Linked DNA regions of Homo sapiens: region 2 is linked to region 1. The links come from fine-mapping of genetic effects on plasma protein levels. Region 1 holds a variant in brackets. A gene starts in the other region. All regions are shown on their reverse strands.

Region 1 (2,905 bases):
TCTGCGGACTAAACGTTTGCCTGTCTGGGGGCGGGGGCTGTGGAGGCTTCACCTGAGGCTTGGTAAGAAGATGTTCAAATGGGAGAGGAGGTGAGCAGGGCCAAGACAAGCGTGTTGTCAGGATAAGGAATGCTGGGCTTCTCTGAACTTGAGTCCAGGCTCTGCTGTGTGACCCTGGGCAAGTTTCTTGTCCTCTCTGAGCCTCAGTCTCATATTCATTGTTATTTTTGAAACAACAGCTTTATTGATATATAACTCATATACATCTTGCCCATCTAAAGTATTTAATTCAGTGGTTTTTAGTATATTTACATAGTTGTAAAGCCATCACTAAATTTAGAACGTTTTTATCACCCCAGAAAGAAACGCTGTACCCATTAACAGTTGCTCCTTGTTTCTCCACAATCCCTGCAGGCATAGGCTGTCACTAATCTATTTTCTGTCTGTATGGATTTGCCTATCCCAGACATTTCATATAAATGGAATAATATAATATGTGGTCTTTTGTGGCCAATTTCTTTCACTTAACATAATGGTTTCAAGGTTCATCCACACTGTAGTATCAGTATTAGTTCATTTGTTTATTTTTGAGACTGAGTTTTGCTCTTGTTGCCCAGGCTGGGGTGCAATGGCATGATCTCGGCTCCCTGCAACCTCTGCCTCCCAGGTTCAAGCAATTCTGCCTCAGCCTCCCAAATAGCTGGGACTACAGGCACGTGCCACCACACCTTGCTAATTTTGTATTTTTAGTAGAGATGGGGTTTTACCATGTTGCCCAGGCTGGTCTCGAACTCCTGACCTCAGGTGACCCTCCCACCTCGGCCTCCCAAAGTGTTGGGATTACAGGTGTGAGCCACCATGCCCAGCCTCAGTATTAGTTTTTTTTTCTTTTGCCAAATAATATTCCATTGTATGAACATACCACATTTTATTTATTCATTCATCAGCTGATGGATATTTGGGTGGTTTCAATCTTTTGGCTATTATGAATAATGCTACCTTTTTTGGTGTGTGGACATATATATTTTCATTTTTCTTGAATATATACCCTAGGAGTAGAATTACTGAGTCATATGGAAACTCCATTTAACATTTTGAGAGACTGCCAGCCTCTTTCCTAAAGCGGCTGTGCTGTTTTACATTCCCACCAGTGGTGTGTGAGGGTTCCGATTTCCCCACGTCCTCGCCAACGCTTGTGATTATCTGACTTTTTGATCACATTCATTCTTGCATCCATTCATCCCTCAAGTATTTATAGAACATCTATATTCAACAAGGCAGAAGGCCCACTGCAGAGCTGGGAAGGGAATTTATCCCTTGAAGAGTTGTTTAGAAGATTCCATGGCATAATATCTAGAACAACCCCCACCAAGCTCAGCACATAGTAGATGCTCAGAGACGGGAGACAGGGAGCATCAAGGAGAGGATCTGGGGGTGGTCAGCAACCATGGGGCCCCCGGGAATGGAGGAAAAGAGGATGGAATTTGTACGTGCTGACCACGTACTGTGTGTGGGAACC[A/G]GTGCTTCAGTCCTTATGACCCTCTGGGCCATATCATTGTTCCATTTGCAGATGGTGGAACTGAGGCTCAAGCCAAGCAGCTTGTTCTGGGTCACTAGGCTGAGAAGTAGTCAGACTGTGGGCTGAGAGCCTTGTTTGGATCATCTTATTTAATCCTCCCAACCCCTGAGGTCAGTCCTATTACTATACCCATTTAGTAGGTGAAGAAACTGAGGCTCAGAGAGGTAGACTGACTTGCCCAGAGTCGCGTAGCTGGTGAAGTTCTGTCCTGGGATTTGGAGCCACATAGTCGAGCATCAGAGTCCCTGCTGTGTCTCCCAGGCCTCTGGAGGGGAGGGTGAGGGCTTGGACATGTCTGCTCCCTCCTTCCCTCCCTTTCTCACCCCACTGTGTCCCACAGAGCCTCATCTTGGGTTGGAGACAGTCCTGGGGCAAGTGTGGCCCTAGGCTGGCTTTTGAGGGCCCTGCCAACCCTTCTTCCAGCCTTTTTGTCTGATGCCTTGCTCTGTGCCTCAGTTTCCCATCTGGGTGATGGTGGTGGTGACTTCCAAGGCTGCTGTGGCTCAGATCATCTGAGTCTGGCTTGTTCTGTCCCTAGAAGAGGAGCAGCCGAGAAGCCAGTGGGACTGCTCCAGGCTGGGGGCGGGGAGTGGCATCTCCACTGTGTGTGAGTTTGGGCTGGTTATAAATAACCCAGCAAACAGGAGGGTGCGGGGAACCACAGCCCGCCTCCTCAGGAGGAGAGGCCTGGACACACACACACATTCTTACAGACAGGGCCGTTTCAGTTATGTGTGTGTGTGTGCTGTGTGTGCCCAGGGTGTATGCTCAGCATGTGTGTGGGGAGGGCTTTGGGGAGCCGTCAGAGCTGTGCAGGCTCCCGGGACAGCTGGAAGGTCTGGGCCTGCTCAGGCTGACTCCAGCAGGTTCTCTTCAGTTCCCTGGAGGAGGCTGGGGTCAGCCCAGCAGAGCTCTAGGGCTGGCGAGGTCCCTGGAGCCCCCTCACCTGGCTTCAAGTGATTCCAAGGTCAGGCTGAGGATCCTTCTGCTCTTAGGGGCCTCCATGTGCTCCTCCAGCCCCTTCCCACTGCCACGTCCCACCCTGCCTGCTCTCCCTGTCCCTGCTCCAGTCCTGAATCCCATCCTGACTCTCCGGCTGAGCTCACTGACCTCTAGCAAGTCGCCTGGGCTTTCTGCCTCTGTGGAGTAAGGAGGCCCATTTCACTGGCTCCTGAGAAGGTAGAGTCCAGTGCTTAGTGTGTGCTCAGTGAAGGCTGCTTTCTTCCAGTCCTGGTTGAGAAATGGCCAGAATGTATGCTCCACTGGGAGCCCACTGATCTGCATATTTGCATATAATTTACATAAACATTTTGTGACAAAATATGC
Region 2 (2,905 bases), not on the chromosome of region 1:
TCGCGCCACTGCACTCCAGCCTGGGCGACAGAGTGAGACTCCGTCTCAAAAAAAACAAAATAAAAAAATAAAATAAAATAAAAAAACAAACAAAAAAACCTGCAAGTCTGCCATGTCATGCCCCCCAGCTTGCAAGCCCTTAATGGCTACCTGTGCCCAGCAGGATCCAGCTCAACATCCTAGGGCTCCCTCTCTGCCGCTGCCTATCTCTTTGGTCACACCGTCTGCCCCTTCAGGAGCGCTGAAGCCATTGGCTTTCAAAACTGGGCACATGTGCTCTCTTGCCCATCCCTCTGTGCCCCTCATTGCTCTTCTCTACCTGACTCAGATACTGCTGTCTCTGGCCCACCTCAACTCTCGAATCCAGTCGGATCCTCCTTGGTAAAACTCCCTACCAAGCTCGGCTTGGCAGGGAGGGCAGCTCTTTGGGTACACAGCTTGGGCTGGGAGTGGGTGGGGAGGCCCGGGGAGTTTATTCCTACCCCAGGCTGCCCTGATATCAGAGTCCTTAGTCGAGTCACCCATGGCTGCTGACCGCTGACCGACCACCCCCCACGTGGGAATGGAGGGCCTGCCTTAGGCATCAGACAGTCCTGGGTTCTCCTTCAGCCTCCCGCACTCGCGCTGGAGGCCCCCGGGCACTAAGTGACTGAACTTTTCGGGGCCTCAGGTCCCTCATCTCTGCCGCCGGCGCGAAGACAGCCGCAGGGACAAGCGCGCTTGTCCTCCCCCACCCTTGCCGGGCCAGCCTGGGGGGAGGTGCGAATCAATGGGTCCCGAGGGTAGCTGCACAGGGCCAGCCTGCCCCCGCCTCGGTGGGCAATGAGTAACCAGCTCCGCGGCCGGGGTGCTCTTTGGACGGAGCGGGACAAAAGGCCCTGTGTGCACTGCGGGTTACTGATTTACCGCCCCCTCCACCCCCTGCCGCCCGGCGGACGCCCAGGTCCCCTGCGCCGGGAGGGGCAGTCCCCGTAGCCCCGCCGCCTCTCGCCCCCTGGCGGCTGGGAGCGCAGCCCGGGCCCACAAGGGTTCCGGCTCACCTCGAGCCTGCGTGACTCCGCGCCCAGCACAGGGTCCTGCTCACCTGGCTCCTCCTCACCTGGCTCCTCCGCCGCCTCACTCCCAGCTCCAGCCGGCCGCGACCCCTGCACGCGGCAGGGTCCGCAGACAGCCCGAGCGCTCCTCGGCCGGGAGCGAGGAATGTACCCGCGACGGCGGCGTGGCCGCGAGCGGCCCACCTCCTGTCCCACCCCGCCCCTCGGGCCCGCCCCCTCCTGCTCGGGCCCGCCCCTCCTTCCACGCCCCCCCCCCCCCCACCCGGGCCCGCCCACCTCCTGCCACACCCCCTCGGGCCCGCCCCGCCTAGACCAGCTCGAGCCGGAGAGAGGTGTGGCCAGGGGTGGCCAAGATCCCCGCCCACCTGGAGAGCCCCGCCCCCGACCCAGTCAGCCCACTCCCGGGACCCCGCCCCAGCCTATACACACACCCCTACACGCAACCCCCCTATACACACCCCATTCAGGCTCCGCCTCTTTCGCCCCACCCAGGCCCCAGGCCAGGCTCCTAAATTCTAGTCTACTACCCAGCTCTACTCCTTGCTTTTCACCCTTCAGGGAATGCCTGGCTCCCCTGTCTTCTGCGCAGTGCCGTGCAGCGGATAGGAGAACCCCTTCCTTCTGCTCCCTCATTTGTTCCCTGCGCAACCTGCGGAGTGATACTTACAACACAAATCTGACTGTGTCAGCCACTCCCTTAAATTTTCCTATAGATTCCCATAGCTCTTTATACATAGATTGCCATGACCCACGCCTCCTGGCTCCCACCCTGCTACTCCTGGGCAGTTTCACGTACCATTCTCTCTTCCTGGAATGGCCCTTGGTCTGGTTAATTTCATATTATTCTCAGCTCACTTCCTTCAGGAAGCCCTCTGGACTTGCAAGCTCCTCTTAGATGACGTCTCTACTGTGAGGATGGAGAAAGAAACAGGGTGAAGTGGTTCAGAGCACAGACTACAGGGCTGGACGTCATAGGCCCAGCTCTCAGCACCATCACACAAGGCCTCAGTCTTCACTGTCCTTTCAGTAAAACAGGCAAATGATAGTCTCACCCACAAGAGGTTGTTGCAAAAAGTAGACATGTTAGCAGTATGTGTAAGCCTGGCATGCAGCGCTTGCTTTGTAATACTAGCTGTAATTATTTAGGACCTGTTATTTCTTCAGCACGCTTGCCAGAATTGTAACTGAACAGTTAATTATGTAAATAGCTGTGGAATGGCCGGGCACAATGACGGGTGCCTGTAGTTCTAGTTACTAGGAGACTGAGGTAGGAGGACAGCTTGAATTCAGGAGTGTGAGGCCAGCCCTGGCAACATAGTTGCCCTGTCTCTATTTTTCAGTAGAGGAACTGTGTCCTCAGACCTCACCATTAGAGTTCAAGTGTCTGGCATACAGTAGGTGCTCCCAGATAGCTCCGTGCCCACCTGGCTCATGTTTGCCTCACCTGTAAGCACTTCTCTCCTGAGCATCTAGACTGTGGCCAAACCAGGAGGCCAGGCAGCCTCTGATCTCTGCCCATCCCTCACCTGAATCTCAAGCCTTCTCCTTCTCTTAAGGCACCTTGAGAGGAAGGGAAATGGGCTGGGTGCACCTGTGGTCCCAGCTACTTGGGAGGCTGAGGCCAGAGGATTGCTTGAGCCCAGGAAGTCGAGGCAGCAGTGAGCCGTGATCGCTCCACTGCACTGTAGCCTGGGCAACAGGCTATGGAGCGAGACCCTGTCTGAGGCTCAGGTCCTGGTTGTCCCCTCTAGCTAGTGTAGACCCTGTCTTAAGAAGCAACTTCCTTTCTCATTGTTACGCAGGCAAGTCTAGTTCTTTCCACCCTCACTCCCAAAGGGATAGTGGCATAT

Alleles and levels. Alleles are on the strand shown, and positions count from the first base shown. The strength of an association depends on the size of the effect and on how common the allele is.
In carriers of allele A in region 1, the plasma level of the protein whose gene starts at base 1,203 in region 2 tends to be higher than with G alone (weak association).

The links. A credible set is the group of variants that fine-mapping cannot tell apart. PIP is the chance, under the fine-mapping model, that this variant and not a neighbour inherited with it causes the effect. Protein levels are from antibody-based Olink assays in UK Biobank. Linkage for the fine-mapping came from a reference panel and not from the study's own genotypes, which makes the PIPs less certain.
Region 2: FGFR4 starts here. The variant in region 1 is the best candidate, but not a certain one, in a credible set for the plasma level of the FGFR4 protein (UK Biobank, PIP 0.51).

What each region holds. Positions count from the first base shown.
Region 1 is chr1:30,887,992-30,890,896 of GRCh38, reverse strand. The region is part of intron 1 of SDC3 (syndecan 3); the gene reads left to right. Among named protein-coding and RNA genes, the nearest start is that of SDC3, 19 kb to the left of the region's middle. RefSeq lists enhancers at 1-37, 2,129-2,188, 2,369-2,428. The variant A/G (reference allele first, on the strand shown) is at 1,520.
Region 2 is chr5:177,085,213-177,088,117 of GRCh38, reverse strand. FGFR4 (fibroblast growth factor receptor 4) reads right to left here and starts at 1,203. Exons shown (of 18, transcript NM_213647.3): 1 at 1,041-1,203. RefSeq lists an enhancer at 687-1,137, silencers at 833-1,292, 1,543-1,592 and a promoter at 1,103-1,322.